3 linked regions of the Homo sapiens genome follow. The protein of the gene in region 2 purifies or fractionates together with the protein of the main gene of each other region. This does not show direct contact. Each region holds a gene or a part of one and is shown on either strand. Other genes may lie near its edges.

Evidence for each region. Proteins that work in one complex are often made in the same cells at the same time.
Region 1: the proteins of AURKA (region 2) and MTMR3 purify together in Homo sapiens (affinity purification with mass spectrometry; 5 studies listed by BioGRID and IntAct, with this or other methods). This does not show direct contact.
Region 3: the proteins of AURKA (region 2) and CALCOCO1 purify together in Homo sapiens (affinity purification with mass spectrometry; 5 studies listed by BioGRID and IntAct, with this or other methods). This does not show direct contact.

What each region holds. Positions count from the first base shown.
Region 1 is NC_000022.11:29,885,729-29,893,837, reverse strand, and holds part of MTMR3 (phosphatidylinositol-3,5-bisphosphate 3-phosphatase MTMR3), read right to left. Parts: intron 1-8,109. UniProt on the Homo sapiens protein: Lipid phosphatase that specifically dephosphorylates the D-3 position of phosphatidylinositol 3-phosphate and phosphatidylinositol 3,5-bisphosphate, generating phosphatidylinositol and phosphatidylinositol 5-phosphate.
Region 2 is NC_000020.11:56,374,848-56,382,956, forward strand, and holds part of AURKA (aurora kinase A), read right to left. Parts: intron 6,725-8,109; coding exon 6,586-6,724; intron 1-6,585. UniProt on the Homo sapiens protein: Mitotic serine/threonine kinase that contributes to the regulation of cell cycle progression.
Region 3 is NC_000012.12:53,723,789-53,731,706, forward strand, and holds the start of CALCOCO1 (calcium-binding and coiled-coil domain-containing protein 1), read right to left. Parts: upstream 3,665-7,918; 5' UTR 3,616-3,664; exon of another isoform or gene 2,412-3,615; intron 1,972-2,411; exon of another isoform or gene 1,902-1,971; intron 1,479-1,901; 5' UTR 1,455-1,478; coding exon 1,299-1,454; intron 960-1,298; coding exon 857-959; intron 1-856. UniProt on the Homo sapiens protein: Functions as a coactivator for aryl hydrocarbon and nuclear receptors (NR). Recruited to promoters through its contact with the N-terminal basic helix-loop-helix-Per-Arnt-Sim (PAS) domain of transcription factors or coactivators, such as NCOA2.

The sequences.
Region 1 (8,109 bases), on a different chromosome or scaffold from region 2:
CAGTTTTTCCTACGTATAAAAGTAATACATGCTCGTTGTAGAAAAATGGGAAACTCTAAAAGAATAAGAAGCAAAAAAGCCACATTATCCCACCAAGACAGAAATTAATCACTACTAATATTTCCATTCATGGCCATCCAGGGTCTCTTCTATATATAAGTGTCTTAGTTCATTTACCAAACAGGATTTTAAATACTGCAGAACAAGCGGGAAGTAGCATACTAGTTCTTTGGAAGACTAATTTTCTTCATTGTAAAGTTACACTTACTGCTGAGTAAGTCAACCATATGTACAAGAAACTGGAGAGAATGACAAAGGTGAGGGGAATCATACCTGCTCTTTTTCATTCACTCACAGCAAACCATGGAGTCCATGTTTTGGGAACCATTATGTACGCAAAGACCAACTAATGAGTATGTTTCCTTTATAAATAGCAGCCTACTAAATAAACAAATACATACATACAAATATACAGTCTTGCCACAGGAGTTACACACACAGTGAAAGGAATGACATTAAGAGTATTTTTTTTGTCACCATGAAAGTATCTTAAGAGAAAGTAAAGGGATATGTGAAAGGTTGATCTAAAATTCAAGACCTCTTCCACGAAAATATTTTCTGTGCACATAAGATGAAGGAACAATCTCACTACGGAAAATATACCTGTTGGTTTTACAATGCTATAACTTATTTACATGTGTAAATAAATATGCAGGAGTTTAAATAGTCCACAAATATTGACAGCTTACTCTGTACCAGGCAATGTATTAACTGCTAGGGAGTAAGGGAGAGAACAGCCACCAGTCCCTATTTCTGCAGAACTTTCAGTCTACCTCTTGAAATATGATGTCAAACACTAGGCATGTGGTCTCAAGCAAGTCACAACAGTCCTGATTAAATGATGATCTCAAATCCTTGTGATGACCTAAGAAGATATATGTGAAAGTAGCTTATACATCATGTTACCTAAGGTAAAAAGAGATATGTGGCCTTTTGTGCAAAGCACTGTATATAGCAATCATCTTCAATATAAATTATCTCATTTCTTTTAACTGGCAAAAAAGTAATCACTCAAGTTGCTTAATATAATCTCTTTTCACAGTCTCTAAGATTTTAGTATTATCTTTCTCTGCCAATGACCCACATGAAATAACTGAAATTAATTTCCCCATTTTTTTCTAATACAAAAAGCCTTGTTTCCTGATGTCATAATTTATAGGGGTTGGGGGGCAGGCAGCCACAGATCAAAAGCAACTTATTCTAACTCAAGAAAAAAATTATCTTTTAATCTAAGAATCATCATGGAAAGTTTGTTATAGGCTCAGGCTAATCCAAACAGAGTTAGTGACAGGTTAATTGTGGTACTTTGAAAGCAAAGGAGAGCAAGTAGCAATTATTCATACCTTCACTCAGTCTCTAGGACCTAACTCTTAAAAAACAGGGAGATACATATTACAGCCAAACGGCTTTCCAAAAAACATAATTTTTTAAAATATGTTCTACAAAATATTAATTCTTCATATCTAGAAGAAATAGAGTACTTACATTGCTTCTTATCCTACTATTTGTCCTTTTCAAATTCAGCCACCTCAACAATGCAAAAAGTATTGAACTGATGTTTTAAATTTATTTTTACCCTTATTGCAGATACGACTCTCAAGAGCATGGGACATTTTTTTTTTTTTGAGATGGAGTCTCGCTCTGTCACCCAGGCTGCAGTGCAGTGGCACAATCTCAGCTCACTGCAACCTCCGCCTCCTGGGTTCAAGAGATTATCCTTCCTCAGCCTCCCAAGTAGCTGGAACTACAGGCGCGTGCCACCACGCTGGGCTAATTTTTTGTATTTTTAGTAGAGGCGGGTTTCACGGTGTTAGCCAGGATGGTCTCGATCTCCTGACCTCATGATCCGTCTGCCTTGGCCTCCCAAAGTGCTAGGATTACAGGCCTGAGCCACCGCGCCCAGCCTAGCATGGGACATTTTAAAGGTATTCATGATCCAACTAAACTGGACCAGCAAAACTAGTGAAATGCCCAAAAACAAGCATCTATAAATGCTCAATATTAAACCTTAAGAGTCTAAAGCAGTAGTATCCAAAGCAAGTATAACATATGCACGGTGGCTCACACCTGTAATACCAGCACTTTGGGAGGCCAAGGCAGGCAATTCACTTGAAGCCAGGAGTTCCAGATCAGCCTGGCCAACATGGCAAAATCCCGTCTCTAGTAAAAAATACAAAAATTAGCCAGGCATGGTGGCACACACCTGTAATCCCAACTACTCAAGTGGCTGAGGCGCAAGAATCACTTCAACCCAGGAGGCAGAGGTTGCAGTGAGCCAAGATCGCACCACTGCACACCAGCCTCGGTAACAGAAAAAGACTCTTGTCTAAAAAATATATACATATTATACATACACATATATATATGTTATATATACACATATATATTATATATTATGTATACACATATACAATGTATACACATATATATTAAATATATACACACACACACATACATACATACACACACGCACACGCATACCTCCAGGAGTAACCAAGACACCCCAGGGTAAAAAAGGAAAATATCTGAACTTTATTTTTAATTATCATCCTTGTTGATTTTTTGTTCGTATTTTATAAAGTCCACAATAATCAGTTACTATACATATATTATTTGTAAATCAAATATCTAAGGATTAAGAATTGATGCTCAATTTTTTTCTTTTTCTCTTTTCTCAAAGCAACAACACGAAGTCCTATCAATTTTTTTTTTCTGACTTCATTCTTCCCATCTCATCTTTTTTTTTTTTCTAAAGAGATGGTCTCGCTATGTTGTCCAGGCTAGAGTACAGCGGCTATATTCATAAGCACAATCACAGTGAACTTTAGCCTTGAACTCCTGGCCTCAAACATTCTCCTGCCTCAGCCAACTAAGTAGATGGGACCACAGAACCATGTACCGCACCTGCTTAATGCTCAAAATTTTTTAGTGATGGGGTAAGCAACCAAAAAGTTTGAAGACCACTGGTCTACACCACTCCCTTGTCACTGATCTTTCATTTTTATCAGCTCCCTCCGAAGAGTTAAGCTATGGAAGTAAGTCCTGATGCTGAAAAAGAAACAGAAAACTGTTTCAAACTACTTTAAACTCCCAACAAGCTAAAGATGACAAATCACTAGCAAGAATATATGGAATTGAATACTAATACACTGTTGATGGGAATTTGAAATAGACATCCTATCTAAAGGGCATCTTGAGTATATCTAAATTTAAAACACACGTACCGTTTGACCTAATAATCCCACTTTTTTTTTTCTTTTGAGACTGAGTCTCACTCTGTGGCCCAGGCTAGAGTGCAGCAGCTTAATCTCGGCTCACTGCAACCTCTGCCTCCTGGGTTCAAGTGATTCTCTGTGCCTCAGCCTTCCAAGTAGCTGGAATTACAGAGGCCCGCCACCACACCCGACTGATTTTTGTATTTTTAGTAGAGACGGGGTTTTACCATGTTGGCCAGCCTGGTCTTGAACTGCTGACCTCAGGTGATCCACCCGCCTTGGCCTCCCAAAGTGCTGGGATTACATGCATGAGCCACCACGCCCAGGTAATAAACCCACTTTTAAGAATTTATCCTGGGCCAGGTGCAGTGGCTCAGGCCTGTAATCCCAGCACTTTGGGAGGCGGAGGCAGGTGGATCATGAGGTCAGGAGATCGAGGCCATCCTGGTCAACATGGTGAAACCCTGTCTCTACTAAAAATACAAAAAATTAGCCGGGCGTGGTGGCATGCGCCTGTACGCCCAGCTACTCAGGAGGCTGAGGCAGGAGAATCGCTTGAACCCGGGAGGCAGAGGCTGCAGTGAGCCTAGATCGCACCACCGCACTCCAGCCTGGGCGACAAAGTGAGACTCTGTCTCAAAAAAAAAAAAAAAAAGAATTTATCCTAAGGAAATAATAAAATAATAGAACAATTCAATGCAATTCAATGTCCAAACGAGTTCATCACAGTACTGCTTTAAGAGAAAAATTGACAATATCCATTAATAACACAGAACTGCTATAAACTATGATGCATCCATATTATAAACACTAAATGCTCATTAAGGGAATATCAATTTTACAGGGAAAGTTGTTCTTTTTAAAATTATTTCAATAGATATGTATAAGAAAAAAAACAAAAATACCAAACATTACATCCAGATGGGATTACAGGTCATCTCTACTTTTTTTTTTAAAAAACACTAAAACCGTTCTGGGCCAGGTGCAGTGGCTCACGCCTGTAATCCCACCACTTTGGGAGGCGAAGGCAGGCGGATCACCTGAGGTCAGGAGTTCGAAACCAGCCTGGCCAACATGGTGAAACCCTGTCTCTACTAAAAATACAAAAATTAGCCAGGCGTGGTGGCAGGTACCTGTAATCCCAACTACTCAGGAGGCTAAGGCAGCAGAATTGCTAGAACCAGGAGGCTGAGGTTGCAGTGAGCTGAGATCACACCACTGCATTCCAGCCTGAGTGACAGAGCGAGACGCCATCTAAAAAAAAAAAAAAAAAAAAAAGTTCCGTAGCTTTCATAACCAGAAATAATTTCATTTTGAAATTTAAAATAAGATTAAGTTAAAACTCCAAATTATAGTGTCCTATATCACTTCCAAAACTCTTTATAAACACTCTGCCTTCCCATGTCATTTGTGGAATCAGTCTAAACAATTAAATATTTGGTTTATCTCATGGAAAAATGATAGGCATAGAATAAATAACAACCCTATTTCAAGTTATAACCATCTTGTCTTCATACCAATTCTTGCCAGTTATGTCATGATTTATCAATATACTTATAATTTCCTTATATTTTGCCAGATTATAAATCTATGAATAATTCTGAAAACTAAATAAATTTATATTTCTCTTCTGCAACTAAGTTATAAAAGTATTAACGACTTGGGGAGGCTGAGGCAGGGAGAATCACTTGAACCCAGGAGGCGGAGGTTACAGTGAGCCGAGATCGCGCCACTGCACTCCAGCCTGGGCAACAGAGCGAGACTCTGTCTCAAAAAAAAAAAAAAAAAAAAAAAGTATTAACTAATAAAGAAATTAGATTTCGACCCCAGGTAAGTGAAATCAGAAAAGCTTGCTATCATCTGTCATAACAGAATCATTCTGAATATCCGTAGTTATCAGCATCAAGACAATACCTCTGTGGTTAAAGTACTCCATACTCCATGTTAAGGGAAAAGAGTACTTAAGAATATTATTACAGCATAAGTTCATGTGCTTTGTTCATTAAATCAACAGTTCAGAACATAGCTATGAGGTATTTCACCACTAACAGAATAGCTTTAAGGTAACCCACCTTCACAATTTTCTTTTTGTTTTCGTTAGTTTCATGCCTTACTATTTTATAGACAGTCATTCTATCCACATTGCCCAAGTACTATGTCCCCAAACAACGACGACAAAGTTTTATCACAACCCAAAAGAAAAAAACAACCTTTTAGGCCAGGCACAGTGGCTCATGTCTACAATCCCAGCACTTTGGGAGGCCAAAGCAGGAGGACTACCTTTGAGCCCAGGAGTTCAAGACCAGCCTGGGCAACGTAGCAAAACCCTGTCTCTACAAAAAATGAAAATTATAATTTTTAAAAAGAAAAAATACATTTTACACGGCAACCAAGTATACATACATAAAAATATCTTTTAAAAAGAAACAAAAGTTTCCCAAATCTTGAACCCGGGAGGCAGAGGTTACAGTGAGCCGAGATCGTGCCACTGCACTCTAGCCTGGGCAAACAGAGCAAGATTCTGTGTCCAAAAAAAAAAACAAAACAAAACAGTATTAACTACTAAAGAAATTAGATTTAGACCCCAGATAAGTGAAATCAGAAAAGCTTGCTACCATCTGTTGTAACAGAATCATTCTGAATATCTGCAGCTATCAGCATCAAGACAATACCTCTGTGTCTATATTTACTTTTACTTTATGCAATGTACTGATATATTCTCTTTCTGAAAATGCTTTTTTAAATAAGTACATTGATTTCATTACCCTATGACACTGCCACCTGCTACTTAAAAACACAGCCTTAGAACTTTACACAGAATGTGCTGAACTCCTTGCTCCTACCACCTTCTACCACTGCTCCAACATAAGAAAATGGGTGAAATCTAGCCAAGTCTATTCCAAGTAGAGACCTTGGCATAAATGTGAGACATCCCAGGTTCCTCTGAAGTCCCTGCAACATTGTGACTATTCCGACTGGCAGACAGGATACATGTGCTGAAAGGTTTCTCCAGCCAGAGTACAGAAGCAGAAACCTTCTCTGTTGCCATATCAGTGATATTGGTAAATTCTGCACTTGACAATACAGACTAGGTTTACCACTGCTCCACAAGCCAATTCTTCAAAGACATAAAATAGGATTCTAATACAATACGATTCTAATACCAGCCCCTTACATTTTTAGAATGCTTTTCATATACACTATTGTTTGATCCACAGTCTGTTAGAAAAGTAGAAAAGTTGCTCTTCTTCCTTTCACTAATGAGGGAACTGGAGCTCAGGGGGGTTATGTAGCTTGCCAGAAACAACATGGGTAATGAAGAATAACAACCCAGGCTTGAACCCAAGATTTACTATCTACCCACTTTCATGCTACAATTTTCATTTTTAATATCTGATACAAATATGAACTTAAAAGGTATATTGTTTCTAGATACAAAAGCAAAGATGAAAGCATATCAGTATTGATATCACAAAATTAAGATTAAAAATAGCAATGACATGTTAATAATTTGGTAGCCTCTAAAGTTACTGGGAGTTCTAGTTCAATCCAGTATGAATCTGATATCATCTTATAACTTAAATCAATGTTACACTGATTATAAATTTATCTATATATTCATCATAGAAAATTACAGAATTAGGTGGTAAGAAACAGCTAGCTATATAAATTGCACAAACTCCCCCCAAACCATTCTCAAGTCTCATGACTTCACACTAAATTATGAAGTTCCCAATGTAAAACCCAATTTGATTTCAACACTAAGCCAATTACAACAGCATAAGCATGTTCTTTCTACATAACACTTGCAACATACATTCAACATCGGAAGCACTTTTGGACAATGTCTAAAATCCATAAGCTAAAAGCAGAACCCAACACAGAATCTTGTTTCTTTTAAATAATAAAAGTTCATCTACCTATATGAGATGAATACCAAATAACATAATTAGAAATGATTAAAAATTTGCAGAATCAGGCTAGAGAAACTACTTGAGGTCAAAGACTATAGGCCCTTAATTGTATATATGAGAAAACTGACGCCCAGAGAAGTTAAGTGACATTCCCAACAGCAATAAATGACACAGATGGAATCAGAATATATGTCTGTCAATCCAGAACTTCCCACTATTCTATACTACCTTTGCACTTACTGTGCTCTTAAAAAAGTAACTAACATCTGAAACACTTAAGATTCATTAAGACTCAAAAACTAGGGGACTCGATAATGTTCATGACAGTCTTTAGAAAACAATTTCTTAAAGGAATCTCAAAAATTCCAAACAATAAGCACTGAAAGCTGGCTCTTCATTTTCATTTTCTTTCCTACCCAGAGCCCTATTTGATCAAAAATTGGCTCTTTAATCCATTGCAAAATATCAGGTAGCTTTTAATAACTAACACTGCTATAAACCACCATAACTGTTCTTTTTCCCATATCAATAGTATTCACTTAATTAAAAAATATCTGAGGGCACAGAATATGCGGATAACTGCGCTGGATACTGGGGACACCAGGGAACAAAACAGACAAGGCCTCTGGCTCTTCTAATGGACAGCTGGGTGCAACTCTAAAAATACTACTCTATGATTTGACAGGATATTTACCAAAGCCCTTCACTACTCTACACAATTGTAACAACATTTTCTTCCACCTCTTCCAAACTTGTAAGAACCTTCACCACACCCCCCTCTAAAACACGAATACTTCCTTTGGTAACAGCATTCCACTTTACTGAAGAAGGTGTGAACGTGTTAACTAGAACTACAGCAGATTTTTAAACTGACTTTACCACTCCTCATGGCCTGCGGCAAATCTCAAGAACTTTTCACA
Region 2 (8,109 bases):
GACCGGCCTGACCAACATGGTGAAACCCTGTCTTTACTAAAAATACAAAAATTAGCCAAGTGTAGTGGTGCATGCCTATAATCGCAGCTACTCGGGAGGCTGAGGCAGGAGAATTGGTTGAACCCAGGAGGTAGAGGTTGCAGTGAGCCGAGATCATGCCATTGCACTCCAGCCTGGGCAACAAGAGTAAAATTCCGTCTCAAAAAAAAGCAAGAAAAAGAAAAGTTTTACAGTCCCTATCGCTAAGATTTAGCAAACAAGTCCAGTATGTATGTATTTACTTATTTATTTTTAAGAGACAGGGTCTCACTCTGTCACCCAGCCTGGATTGCTATGGCATGATCATACCTCACTGCAGCCTTGAACTCCTGGCCGTAAGCAATCCTCCCACCTCAGCCTCCTTCCGAGTAGCTGGGACTACAGGTGTGTGCCACCATGCCCAGCTAATTTTTAATCTTTCTTTTTTTTTTTTTTTTTTTTGTAGAGACAGTCTCCCCATGTTGCCTACGCTGGTCGCTAATTCCTGACCTCAAGTGATCCTCCCACCTTGGCCTCTCCAAGTGCTGAGATTACAAGCGTGAGCTACCATGCCTGGCCCAGAATTTATTTTAACATACAGATAACTGTTTGAATATTGAAAAAATATATTTAGCTCTGCCTAAAGTTTGAGAAGAGTTTGCTTTCTACAGCAATTTCTAGACAGGATTGAACATTATTTTACATCAAAAAGGTTTACTAAACAGATGAGTAAAAACCAAATGTCACTGTCAGAATAAACACTTTTCATTCTTTCAGCCCAAAACCGGAGATCAAAATTCAGACCACAATAAACTGAAGGCAAATACAAAGAAAGCTGCTCTTCTGACCACCAACTTTGAGTTGCTGATGCTTTAATTGCACACATTAAAGTTTGAGAGGGCAATGGATTTCACTCCTCAAATCACTTCCAGACAAGAAGCTATTAGTTTCATGATAGCCCTCTGGCACTGCCACTTCCTCCACACCTCACATGTTGTTAGATTGCAGATATGGATAGGTCACTGACATGTCACTACAATTAGTTTTATTTGAATTCATCTGAAAAGGAAAACAGGTACATGTGTATTCATTCTAACTGCTAAGGAATCTAGACAGAAATGATCTTTCATTTTCTTTCAAACAGCTATCTGCTTACACCAAAACTCCATCTAGATTGAAGCCTTGGGTGTAAGGAGAGAAAACAGAGAAGTAGTATAATGTGTAATTTTGTAGTGTTGGTATAAGGTGAATCTTTTAAAGTAGGATATCAATATCAGAAACTGAAGAAAAAGATTAACTGACCTGAAACAACAAACTACAACCCACCATAAGCAAGATTACCAGGAAAAAAACCAAGGGTAAAATGTGAGTACCTGAGGTAGAGTCACTACCATTAATGAGCATAGATTTACTTATTGATCTGTAAGAGAAAGTTGGCCCAAAAGATGAACTCAAAGAAATATTAATTGCCAATTAAATAAGAAGCTGATTTGTTTAGCTAATATTTAAAAAAGCAAATTAGAGATCTATTTCTACTTAGGAGAAGCACAAACATTTAAGATTAAGTCTTTAAAACAGCATGTCATTGTTGCAGAGACAAGACCAAAGAGCCATTTGTCCATAGTAGCATGATTTCATCAGATACTGAAAGTAAAATTACTTGAATTTAAATGCCATTTACATCAATGCCAAAAAGAGAACTAATGTCCACACTACCCGGAGATCTCCACCAAGAAACAGAAAAAAATCAAAGTAACCACCATTCAACATGCTTTATCAAGCTGCCAATCCAATAAGAAACGGCCCAAACTAAGACTCTTCAACTTCTTAAAACAAGTAATTTTAATCACATAAAAAAGGAGAAGCAAAAAAGCACAATCATGAAAGAAAAAACTGACACATTTGGACTTTTATTAAAAATACAGCCTGGGAGGCCGGGTACAGTGGCTCATGCCTGCAATCCCAACACTCTGGGAGGCCGAGGTGGGCAAATCACCTGAGGTCAGGAGTTCAAGACCAGACTGGCCAACATGATGAAACCCTGTCTCTACTAAAAATACAAAAATTAGCTGGGCGTGGTGGCTCATGCCTGTAATCCCAGCTACTCAGGAGGCTGAGGCAGGAGAACTGCTTGAACACAGGAGGTAGAAGTTGCAGTGAGCTGAGAACCAAGATCACGTCACTGCCCTCCAGCCTGGGTGACAAAGCAAGAATGCCTCAAAAAAAACAACCTGGGCAACATGATGAGACCGTGTCTATACAAAAAATACAAAAATTAGCTGGGCGTGGTGGTACCCACCTGTAGTCTCACCTACTCAGGAGGATCACTTGAGCTCAACAGGCAGAGGCTGCAGTGAGCAGAGATCGCACCACTGCACCCCAGCCTGGCTGACAGAGTGAAACCCTTTCTCAAAAAAATAAATAAAAAACAGCCTTGTGAAAGACACAGATAAGAGAACAAAAATACAAGGCACGGATTGGGAGAAAATATTTGCAAAACATGTGTGACAGATGACCTGCATCCAAAATATACAAAGAACTCTTAAAACTCAAAACTCAAAAAAAAAAAGAGCAAAAGATTTCAACAGGTGCCTCAAAGACGATACACAGATGGCAAATAAACACATAAAAAGATGTTCAAGGCCGGGCGCAGTGGCTCACGCCTATAATCCCAGCACTTTGGGAGGCCGAGGCAGGTGGATCACAAGGTCAAGAGATCAAGACCATCCTGGCCAACATGGCGAAACCCCATCTCTACTAAAAGTACAAAAATTAGCTGGGCATGGTGGCACGTGCCTGTAGTCCCAGCTACTCAGGAGTCTGAGGCAGGAGAATCGCTTGAACCCAAGAGGCGGAGGTTGCAGTGAGCCAAAATCGCACCACTACACTCTAGCCTGGTGACAGAGCGAGACTCCGTCTCAAAAAAAAAAAGAGACGTTCAACATCAAATGTCATTAGGAAACTAGAAATCAAAACAATGAGATACCACCACATGCCGATTAGAATAACTAAAATGCAAAACAAGAGGCCAGGTATAGTGGCTCACTCCTGTAATCCCAATATTTTGGGAGGCATGAATTACTTGAGACCAGGATTTCGAAACCGACCTGGGCAACAAGGCAAAACCTTGTCTCTACAAAAAAATACAAAAATTAGCCAGGCACGAGAGCACATGCCTGTAGTCCTAGCTACTTGGGAGGCTGAGATGGGAGGATTGCTTGAGCCAGGGAGTTTGAGGTGGGTGATCATGCCATTGCACTCCAGTCTGGGCGACAGTGAGACCTTGTCTCAAAACAAACAAACAAAAATCCAAAACACTGACATCAAATGTTGGCAACTATGAGAAGCAAGAGGACCTCAATTCATTGGTTCCGATACCACATTACCGTTGTATAATGGTATCAGAATTGTTAACCAGCTGCCCCACGGAAACCAACTTTATCAATTAGAGTGCTTATGTGCACTTCCTTTGGCCTTTGTCTTATAGACTCCACTCATCTCCAAAGCTGCTTGGATCAACACTTTACCCTCATGCCCTTTAGTAAGGTGATTTCCTACATTTGTAATGCAATGTAAAATATAATGTAAAAATCACTTTGGAAGACTGACAGTTCCTCACAAAGCAAAATATAGTCTTACCGTATGAGCTGGCAATAGCACTCCTATATATGTGCCCAACTAATTTGAAGACTTGTTTCGCAAAAACCTGCATGCAAATGTTGACAGCCAAAACATGATAACTGCCAAAAACCAGAAGCAGCCAAGATACCCTTCAGTAGACGAATAAACTGAGGTACTTCCATATAATGAAATAATGGAATATGATTTTGTGATAAACAGAAATGAACAAGCTCTCATGCCTCCAAAAATACACAGATGAATCTTCAATGCATATTGCTAAGTGGAAGAAGCCCACCTAAAAAAGCTACATACTGTTATGATTCCAATTACATGATATTCTGGAAAAGGCAATAGAGACAGTAAACAGATCAGTGGTTGCCAGAGATGGAAGGGTTGGAAGGGATGAGTAGTTGAGACACAGGATTTTTTTTTTCTTAAGAGCAGCGAAACTATTCTCTATATCATAATGGTGGATACATGGCATTGTGTATTTGTCGAAATTCATAGAACTTTACAGCAAACACACAAAAATCAATCTCAGGATATGAAAATGTAAATGATTCCATCCTGGGCATGCAGATTGTGACAAAAAAATCTCATTGCATTACAAATGTAGGAAACCACCTTACTAAAGGGCATGAGGGTAAAGTGTTGATCCAAGCAGCTTTGGAAATGAGTGGAATCTATAAGACAAAGGCCAAAGGAAGTGCACATAAGCACTCTAATTGATAAAGTTGGTTCCCACGTGGCAGCTGGTTAACAATTCTGATACCATTATACATGTATATTGGAATTGAATAAGTAAAAGGATGGTGGGCGGTGAAATCCAGGTTTCACACTTTTGGAGTGGGAGTTTACAGGTAAACAGGAGGAAGTTAGAATGAAACGTGGTAATGGATTCAAGTTGAAGACATCAGTATGAATTCATGGTATGCTTAATGAAGAGATAGATGGATAAATCTATACACAGATTACTATCCACATATATTCCCTTGCTGTGTCAGCTGAAAGCCTAAAAGTAGTGACACCATAGTAGCAATGAGTACACCAAGTGCCCAGAGCTTGGTTTCTAATAACATTCTCCAAGAAAAGGAAACAGGGCTCCTTGGAGAAGTGGTTCGATTCTAGGACTGGAGCAGGAAATATACACGATGAGGCCTGAGCATCTTGTATCAGAAAGTAAGGAAGTACAAGGCCAGGCGTGGTGGCTCACACCTGTAATCCTAGCACTTTGGGAGGCTGAGGCGGGCAGATTACCTGAGGTCAGGGGTTAGAGACCAGCCTGGCCAACATGGCAAAACCCCATCTCTACTAAAAATACAAAAATGAGCCGGGTGTGGTGGTGCATGCCTGTTAATCCTAGCTACTCAGGAGGCTGAGGCAGGAGAATCGCTTGAACCCAGGAGGTGAAGGCTGCAGTGAGCCAAGATTATGCCACTGCACTCCAGCCTGGGCGACAGAGTGAGATTCCATCTCAAAAAAAGAAAAAAAAAAAAAGGAAGTGTAAAAACAAACCAAAAAAAAACCACACACACGCAAGACAAAACTGCAATGATTTTCCCAGGAACCTGGTAAAACAAAAAGAGCAGGCCGGGCACGGTGGCTCATGCCTGTAATCCCAGCACTTTGGGAGGCTGAGGTGGGTGGATCACAAGGTCAGGAGTTCAAGACCAGCCTGGCCAATATGGTGAAACCCCGTCTCTACTAAAAATACAAAAATTAGCCAGGTGTGGTGGTGGGTGCCTGTACTTCCAGCTACTTGGGAGGCTGAGGCAGAAGAATCGCTTCAACCTGGGAGGCTGAGGTTGCAGTGAGCCAAGATAGCGCCACTGCACTCCAGCCTGGGCGACAGAGTGAGACTCCGTCTCAAAAAGAAAAAAAAAAAAAAAGAAAGAAAAAAAGTTCCCAGTGGCCAAAGTTGCAATGATCTGAACCACAAAATAAAGTATTGCATTATAGCTCAAGAGATAAAATAAATACCCAGGAGTCTACATCTTTAAATAAATAAATGATTAAATAAATAAGGGAGAACAGCCTTATCTCTGGCACAGAATTCCAGATAATTTATGGCAATACTCCATCCACTCTCTACTCCTTAAGTGTGGGCTATTCATAGTAACTTCCTTTGAAGAAATACAGCACGGAAAGGGGAAAAAATAGTAACTTTACAGTGGAGAAACCAGACAAACACTCTCTGAGTCAGAAGATCAAGCTGACATCCACAGTTAAAAGTCATAAGAGTTTACATCCCTGGTATGTGATAAGAATGCACTTTACCTCTGATCTCCCTCTCAAAAACCCATAAGCCCAATTTAATCATGAGAAAAACTAAGAAAATCTGAATAAAATGTGGACTTGAGTTAATAGTTATATATCAATATTGGTTCATTGAATGTGACAAATGTGCCATATTAATGCAAGATGTTAGTAGGAGAATTAGTAGGAAATTCAGTGTGGGGTATATGGGAACTCTCTGTACTGCCTTCACAATTTCTGTAAATCTAAAACTATCCTAGCCAGGTACAATGGTGTGCACCTGTAGTCCCAGCTACTCGGGAGGCTGAGGTGGAGAATCACTTGAGTCCAGCCTGGGCAACATAACAAGACCCTGTCCCTTTAAAAAAAATAAAATAAAATAAAAATTATTCTAAAATAAAACATCTATTAAAGAAAATGAGGGTGACTATCTATATACATTATATACATTTCCATAGAAAACAGCTGTGCAAACTAGGCACAAAAGCAGATACAACATTCTACCTGGTTCTAGACTTTATCTGTACATATGGTACAACTAAGCTATTTTGATTTTTCCACTTCAAATATTTGATATTAAGCTATCCTTACGTCAAGACAAAACCCACTCTACTATGATGAAAGGTACATTGCTATGGAGGACAGGTATAAAGGAAACACAATTAGCCTGGACAATAAATGAACACTTACAGTAGCAGTTCTCTGCTCATCAAACTTTGAAAGTTTCTGAAGTTCTCTATAAACTGTTCCAAGTGGTGCATATTCCAGAATTAGGTAGACTCTGGTAGCATCATGGAAATAACCATACAGTCTAAGAATATTAGGATGCCTGCAACAAAGGATAAACATTCTAACACTTGGTTTGGAGCTCACAGAAGACTATGTACAAAATGTCAAACAAACTCTTCATGTAAAACCAGTGGTGTTTCACATGAAACCACACTCCAAACCCCACTTTAGAATCTGAAACTATAAACCCACTCCAAGAAAAATACATACACCCACATATCATTTTAAAAGCACTTCACAGTATTAATGGACCTCTGGTTTAGTTAAGACTATTTCCTTCCTTTAGGCACCTTTATTCTTAGGAGGAAAATTCAGCTGAATATTAATTATCTACATATTAAAAAAAGGACATGGCCGGGCACAGTGGCTCACGCCTGTAATCCCAGCACTTTGGGAGGCCGAGGCGGGAGGATCGCGAGGTCAGGAGTTCAAGACCAGCCTGGCCAACATGGTGAAACCTCGTCTCTACTAAAAATACAAAAATTAGCTAGGCTTGTTGGTGCATGCCTGCAATCCTAGCTACTCAGGAGGCTGAGGCAGGAGAATCGCTTTAACCTGGGAGGCAGAGGTTGCAGTGAGCTGAGATTGCGCCACTGCACTCCAGTCTGGGCAACAGAGCGAGACTCCATCTCAAAAAAAAAAAGGAAAAAAAAAAAGGACATGGCATTGCCACAGTAGTTTGACACCCAGACACTGTGACAGATAAAAGCAGTGATCAGTAATGGCAGTAGATGGGTGCTGAGCAGACTGGGCAGGTGCAGACTGTGGCCAGCGGGAAGCAGGCAATGGGAAGCACAGCCCATGTGAGATGCCTGCCCCTCCCAGCCCCAGCCAGGTGTTGCCAGGCAGAGACACACCAGGCCTGATGTGGCCAGACTTGAAGTATTAGCATCTGATTCAAATTTGAAAAACACTGAAAGAAAAAAAGGAAAAACAAAAACCCACCAGCCGTAGTCAACCTGCAGGTAGCTGCTCGCAATTCCTGCATACCTCAGAATAAGGGGTGCCATTCCCCTTCACTGTCCACCAGAAAGACTTGCCCATATAAACTATTCTATTAACAAAACATTAAATCCTCAAGTGATTTTTCCAGGATCAGAGCACTTAAGTGCTCTTTGAAAGATGACAAATTTAATCATTTTTTGTGGTACTATGAAAAGCAGGCCCTCTAAAAAATAAATTTATACTTAAAAAAAAAAAAAGGAATACAATTTTATTTTAACATGCAGAGCATGGGAGAATCACAGGAGAATGCTTATAACCCAGTGCAGTACAGAAGCTTATCTAATCTTTTTCATAGGGGAGGGGGAGGTGAGGAACGGGGCCATGCATTTGAAGGCAGTGCCTCGTAAGAGGGAGTGAAGGGACCTGGGCAGTGGGAGGCTGACATTACAGGAGGGGGAGGGGTGCAGCATTGGTGAACAT
Region 3 (7,918 bases), on a different chromosome or scaffold from region 2:
GGAAGAAGAATGGACCCAGGACCCCAATAATCCACTGTCCTTGGCCCCAGCCCCTTGCTCGGTGTTCCATATACTGTTTCTTCTCTTCTCCACCTCCCACAGGCCATACTCTTCTCCCTCCTTTCTGCCTGTCCCTCTCCTTCCTTTCTTTCCCAAACCCACTGCCCCTCTATCATAATCATAATAATGCTAGTTACCATGTAGTGAGTGCGTACCATGTACCAGACACTGTGGTAACACTTTTTATTTTATTTTATCTTGAGACAGAGTCTTGCTCCATCGCCCAGGCTGGAGTGCAGTGGCGCGATCTTGGCTTGTTGCAACCTCTGCCTCCCGGGTTCAAGAGATTCTCCTGCCTCAGCCTTGTGAGTAGCTGGGACTACAGGCATGCACCACCACGCCTGGCCTGCAGCTTTCATTTTAAATCCTCGTAATGTCCCTATAAGCCAGGCATCCCCTTTTACTGTTAAGATAACCGACACAGGGAGGTTATGTAATTTGCCCAAGGCCAAACAGCTTGTAAGTGTTAGAGGTGAGATTTGAACCCAGGTCTTTCCCTCTTCTCACCACATAATTCTACCTTTCCCTCTTCCTTACTCCCCCATTTTTCCTTCTTTGGGTAGGACAGGGGACTAGATGCCCTCTGAAGTTCCTTCTGTTTCTATGTCCCTGATTCTGCGATAATCCCGTGATTCTCTATCCGCTGAGCGCTGTTGGATATATTCTCATTATATTTATTTTCGTTTATTTTTCCTTGTCCTTTGTGCCTAACTTTTAATGTTTCTGAGCCCACTACCTTCTTTCAAACCTCCACTCCCTTGGCTCCTCTCTCCCAATTTTCCATCTTCCCTTGTACCTTGGAACTGGACACTGGTGTGAATGGGGGAACCATCAGTTGTACTTTCAGGCACGGAAGACCACACAAATGTGTGGTAATCCCGAACACAGGCAGCCTCCACCTGTGAAAGCCCAAGGTTGGAGAAAGGTATGGTCATGGAACTACCTTCTATGGATGGAAGAAAGGGCTGAGGGGTTGAATAAGGGGGGCAGGATGGAGCTACAGTGGCAACAATGACAAGAGAAAGGGAAAGTGGAGGGACACTAATGTGTCAGTAAAGAACAAGGCTAAGATGGAGAAAATATGTGCTTTGGTTATACAGGCGGCCTCTGTCATCTGTGACATCTTTCTCTCTTCTTCTCTATCAACCTGAGGTTGAGAATCCAAGAGCCCAATCATTCCCCTTATTCCAACCAACTCACAGCCCATAAACCTAAGCCAAAAGGGGTTCCAGAGATACCTTGAAGATGCCAATCCAGTCACTGGCACTGGGCATGGTGCCTGGGGGAAGGGTGTAGTGACATTCCACCTTGGTGTTGGGGATGTAGGTCCGGGCTACATTGAGAAAGTTGACTCCACCACGGGATGGTGCCCGGCTTAGTGGTGATTCTTCCATCCTGGCCTTGAGATATCTGTCCTCCTATGAAAGAAAGGGTTGATAGCCTAAAGTCTTTCCAGTCCACCTCCTTCCCCCCACAGCTCCAGCACCACACACTCACAGCCCCTGCCACTACACCTGGAGATAAGGCATACCTGGTTTCTAGTCCCTGAGGGTTACGGGACATTTTTGAGGTATCACTCTTAGTCTCTAGGACGTAGGTCTGGCCTTCCAAGTCCGTCCCCATCCTGTCTCACACTGTACCCGCTCTGGCTCATAGACCCTTCTGAGGGTTCAGACTTCTCTAATTTTGCTCCCAAAAGGACACTGACGGGGACAGAGCCTGGGATACTGCGACTTGGTCGACAGCCTCCATTTCTCCATCCCATCTCCCACACATCCTGGCTCTTGAATACAAAATCCAACTGAGGTGTGGGGCCCTCTCATTGAGAGAGGTGTCCTTACCTACTCCTAAGCTTGTTGACCCAGCTGTATCCAGGAATGAGTTATGACATCAGAAAGCAGCAACTAATCTCTGAAAGGAATGGTTGAGTTTTCAGAGCTAGAATATGGCTGGGGGTCGAGGGGAACTGAGCCCAAATCCTTAGGCTCCTGAGCTCTCAGCTCTTTTCATCTCTCTGAGCTGCCTACCCCCATGAATTCTAGGGAAGCAGAAAGCTTCTGCTGGCATCCAAGAGACAAAGGGAAGGGGAGGATATAAGGAAAGACAGGTTCTGTCCCTTGACTTATTATTCCAGGAAGTCAAGAATTCTGGAGGCGGCAACTTCAAGGGTGGAGTGAGGCGCTTAGCAGGAACGTGGTGGGGGTGGGGAGATGGAATGTGGGGGCCTGGAGCCAGGAAAGCCCCACCCCAGGGCAGGGAACAGACTAGAAAGTGGGAAGTAAGGGGCCCCAAGAAGTGGAAATGTATATTTAACGTTGAGGAAAGGGGAGATAGTTCAAAAAGAACCTAACATTCTTCTCTCCAGACTGTGCCTGCAGCAGGACTAGAAACCTACTGGTTTCACTTTAGTATTTCTCTCCTCATTTTCTCTCTGCTCCCCTCAGCCTCCATCCTTCCATCTGTTTGTATTGGTAGCTGGAGACACACTACAGGATGGGGTTGAGAGGAAGGGGTGTTCCAAGTTAGCTGGGGAGAGTTAATTGGAAAATATGAGGGTGGGGTGAGGACAGATAACAATAATAACGATCAAAAGAACTCCTCAGTCCAGGGCTGTGAGATGGCCCTCTTATTCATCACTCCTTTCCAGCCCACTAATCTATTTCCTGTGTCACTCACAGCTGACATGTCCAACCAGCCATTGTCACTAGTCATATGCACGCCCCCAAACATCACAAACCCACACCAGGCTGAAGTCCAGGGGACAGGAACTTTAAAAGAAAACAGAAACTCAGTGGATAAAGGTGAGCCAGCAACACAAAAAGGAGCAACTTCTGTCCCCCAAATAGGTAGAACAAAAAGTTTTTTTTAATGTTCATCTCCCTGAAAAATTCCTGGTTGAAACTAATCCATGTTTTCTCCAAATGCAATTCTTCCAGCTTTCTAAGGGTGGGGGTAAATTGTCCCCAAAGATATACCTGGAGAACCCTAAAATACACCCCACAAAGAAAATCCGTAACAGCTGTAAACGTTCTTCATGTCCGAAAGAAAGTTTTGGGCACCTAAGATGTAGGTGTGTAGCCTGATTCAGATGTTCACATGATGGGGCGGAGAGCGGGTGTCCCATCCCCTACTCTGTAGGGCTCTAGAGTTCCTTGACATTCTACACCTTGGAAGGTCCCCCTTCCTCCCCAGGGATTCAGCGTCGTAAAGGCCTTTGGATTTGCGTAGGGGAGAGAGGGAAGACGTGTAGGGGACACGTCTTGCCTGGGAGCGAATAAGCAGATTTCAGCTCCCTTGAAGGGATCAGCTTTATAGAGACGCATTGAGAAGAAGGAGAGGACGACGAGGGGGCGCCCCCCACCCCCAATCAGAGTCCCCTTGAAACCAAGAACTCCCCAAACAGCGGGGGTGGCTTCTCCAGTACGGAAAGGGTTACAACCCAAACGCTCCTGTATTCCCCTTCGACAGTTCCCTTACGTTATCCTTCCCCAAACTGGAAAGTGGGGTGACCCTCCCCTCCCATAAGATCGCCCCCAATTAGGCCAAGTTTCTTACCCAACAGACGGATCAGCTGTTCCCCTCACCTTTCACCAACAACAAAAACAGCACTCCGACTTCTGGAGGGGAGGGAGAAGAGTGGGCGCGAGGGCTTCTGGGGTTTGTGGTTCTTCTGCGCCCTTTTGCCGCTGCGTGCTCGGATCTAGGACTATACATCCCAGAAGGCTGCGCGCAAGGAGGGCGGGGAAGAGGGCGTCCGTGACGGCGGCCTCACCGCGGCATCCTGGGAGGCGTAGTTCTCACTCCTATGACAGAAAACGAGGGTGTGGCCAGCAAAGGACTTCAAGGCCCATGATCCCTTAGGAGGGGGCCGGCTGCATTAGGGGTGGCTGCTGGTTTGTAACGTGCGTTGTTGGGGGCTGGGGAGGATTTACGGCTCTAAAGCCTTCCATATAACGCTTTAACGGTGGGCAGAGCGGTTTCTGTTGCGTCCCGTCCTGTACTTTTCGCACCCACCTGTGAGATAGGCGTTAAGCGTTATGCACGCTTTATAGATGTAGAAAGTGAAGTACGGTTAAGGAGGCGGTGTGAAGTGTCAAAGCTATGAAATGTAGAACTGCATTAGCCTTGGCTAATTCCACGTCATATATTCTTGCCACTACACCACAGCTACCCACCATTTTGGGGATGGGAAACTGATAGCTGGGGTATAGCAGTTTCTTCTTTACTTCAATCTCAGGGACAGACCTTGTAAGAATGATGTCTTCTGCACAGCTGACCATTTTTTTCCAACTTGAGGATTTCAGTGCTAAGGGGCCTGACCATATCCACATCTGGACTGGGCTCCCCCAGAGTGGCTTCTGGGTCTAGGAAGAGGATACAATTGACTGAGGTGGTGGTAGGAGCGGTGGAATGAGAAGAATGAAATTGAAAAGGGAGCTTGGCATAATTCAGGACCTGTCACAATTCACAAACAAGCCACTTATGGGGCCTGTTTGCCCAAGCCTTTTAAGTGGCTTAAATTAATTAGGATAACAATACATGTTGACGTTCCGGTTTTTATTTAGGAGAGGTGAAAGATTGACACGTCTCCCACACCCCAAGTCACGTTATAGACTTGGGCATCCTGTCCCCCCTCTCGCTATTCTCCATCCCTGTAGTCGGAGGCATTCAGAATTACCTCTTTCTCTGGCTCTGCATTAAAGGATTACAGTCTTAAGGATTGATTTCCTCTTCCTAGGTGCCTGCTTTAATTCTCTACTGCACTAAGTTATGGAGCTTCTGCCTTTTCCAAGTTTTTTGGTAGTGTTTTGCTTTTATGACTGAATGCGGTGTCTGCCCTCAGTGTCTTTCATCTGAAGATCTCCAGGCACTTAAAAATTAGTTACTGGGCTGCACAAACATTAAGGTGATGTGTCTGTGTCATTAGTCAGGATTTATGAGTTAGGGAACCAGTTTCTGGATGAGGAGGTAGCTCAAGGTCTGGAGTGGGTTAAGAGTGAGGTCTGTTCAAGGACCCAAGTCTCAAGAGTTCTTGGCTCTTGTCTTCCGCCCAAAATAAAGGTCTACGAGAAAACAGTCTCGGAGCTAAAAATGGTAACAACTTCCATTTCTTGGGTGCTTATGATCTGTTCAAACTATGCTAAGAATTTTCCCATTTAATACAACAGGCTTATGTAATACGCCTTGTTATTATCCCCATTTTACACATGATGAGATTGAGGCACAATTAATGACTTGCCTGGAGTCATCCAGCTAGTGAGTGGCAGAATCAAGATTTAAGCACAAGCAGTCACCATACTCCCAGTCCAGAAACTCTGGCATGTGATACTAACTCCCATTGTTCTAAGGAACAGTGCTGGTTCATTAACAGGAGACAAATGTTCACTGAGCATTTATGTGCTCAGTGCAAGGCACAAAGTAATGTGAAACAGATTCATTCAACAAATATGTGGCAGGTACTATGCTAGGTATTCAGTTACTTTTATTGAAAGAATGAATAGTAAATATTCATTATTTTAAAATAATATATGTAATTCATTATTTTAAAATAATAAATGTAATTCATTATTTTAATTATAGTCATTACTTTCAAATATTCAAGTATTTGAAGGATAGATTAAATTTGGATAGTTTGGCAAGATGGGGACTGGGGAGGGTAAGCTTCTTCTAGGCCAAAGCAAAGATTTGGAGGTGGGAATGGATAATGAGCCTAGAGTCACATAATAGCACATCAATTTCAACCTTTATTTATGTATTTAGGCAAACTCAGATTATTGGTAATGTCTGCCTGAAATGTTGTGTTGAGGATTCTGAGGAAAGAGTGCTGGGTAGTAATGTCTGCCATGTACTCCAGATGGAAAATGGCAGTTGTAGTGGATGGACTAATTGTTTGAAATTATTTCCTCTCTCATTCCTGCCCACTGCCATGTGACTTGCAGTATCTCCTGTAGAAGGAATAGATGTCTCATGTCATTGACTTTGGGCTTTGTCATGTTTCATAATTTGGCTGATGGGATGTGAACAGATGTGACTCATGCCATGTTTGAACACATGAGTTTCCACTTTCTTGTTCTTCTCTGCCACTAGAATGGGAATAATCCACATGAGAGTTGCTCCTTCTGCCTGGGCCTGGGAATGAGAAGACCTGTGGAGCTGAGCTACTGCTTACCCACAACCTGCATATACATAAATCAGAAGCCAGCACTGGTTGTTGTGAGTCGCTTAGATTTTGGGGTAGGTTGTGATTGCAGCAAAGCTGAATAAAAGCTACAGTTGGAGGCCAGGCGTGGTAGCTTGCTCCTGTAATCCCAGCACTTTGGGAGGCCAAGGTGGGCGGATCACTTGAGGTCAGGAGTTCAAGACCAGCCTGGCCAACTGGTGAAACCCCATCTCTACCAAAAATACAAAAATTAGCCAGGTATGGTGGCGCGTGCCTGTAATCCCGGCTACTTGGGAGGCTGAGGCAGGAGAATCGCTTGAACCCAGGAGGCAGAGGTTGCAGTGAGCCAGAATGGTACCACTGTTCTCCAGCCTGGGCAACAGAGTGACACTCTGTCTCAAAAAACAAAACAAACAACAACAACAACAACAACAACAACAAAAAGAAGCTACAGTTGGATAATTGGATAATGGAAGATAAAATTGGAAAGACAGACTTAAGCCAGAGTATAGAGAGTTTTGAATGTCAAGTGAGCCAGAGCCTATGTGTTTATCAGAACCTGTTTCTTTCTTTTTCTTGGACACACAGCTGTACCACATTTTTTTATTTTTTTATTTTTATTTTTTATTTTTTTATTTTTTTGAGACGGAGTCTTGCTCTGTCGCCCAGGCTGGAGTGCAGTGGCGCCATCTCAGCTCACTGCAAGCTCCGCCTCCCAGGTTCATGCCGTTCTCCTGCCTCAGCCTCCCAAGTAGCTGAGACTACAGGTGCCCGTCACCACACCTGGCTAATTTTTTTGTATTTTTGGTAGAGACGGGGTTTCACCGTGTTAGCCAGGATGGTCTCGATCTCCTGACCTCGTGATCCGCCCGCTTCGGCCTCCCAAAGTGCTGGGATTACAGGCAAGAGTCACCGCGCCCGGCCTAGCTATACCACATTTTTAAGCTTCTCCTTTAATTAATGTGTTCCATTTTCAAGTCTGGCCCATAAAACCCTCCAAAAAAGTTCCTTCCTATTTTTTTTCCTGTCTAGCTTGATGAAGATGACCTTAGGCACAGTGACCCTGAAGGCCACATGTTAAAGACAGTGGAGCCACAGGATGGAAGGAAGCTGGTTCCCTGAATCATCACGTGGCAGAGAGCGGACCACTAATCAGGATCATGTGTTTCAGATTTCACTTGACCAATAAATCAATTTCAATTTTGTTACACTGCTAAAATGGGTTTATTTTTTATAGTAGCTACTGTTTTCCTCATCAATACATCATGTACAAAGGTTTGGACTTCACTCCCATCAGGAATGGGAAGTTAGTCACTGAAGATTTTTTGAAAAAGGGGAATAATACTGTGAAGACAGGTGGAAGTTACAGTTATTGGGATCAAAGAATATTTCTGAGTGAGAGTGGGAGATTTGGGGACTGTTGTTTTTTTTTTAAGAATATAGTTTAACTCGTCTGGGGAAGGGAGATGACTGCCATGATTGTCGAAGGGCTCCGTAGAACTTGGGAAGGAGCTGCTGAAAAGTGAATCCATTTCCCTGAAATGTTGTCTCTTTTCTCTTTTGCAAAAGTCCTAATTCTGGTATTGCCTCATGTAGTTCGGTGCCCACCACATAATAAATGTTTAATGGAAGCTGGCCCTGGACTCTGGGAATGCTTTGAGGAGCTACCACTAGTTGAGTGCCTACTATGTGAGAGGT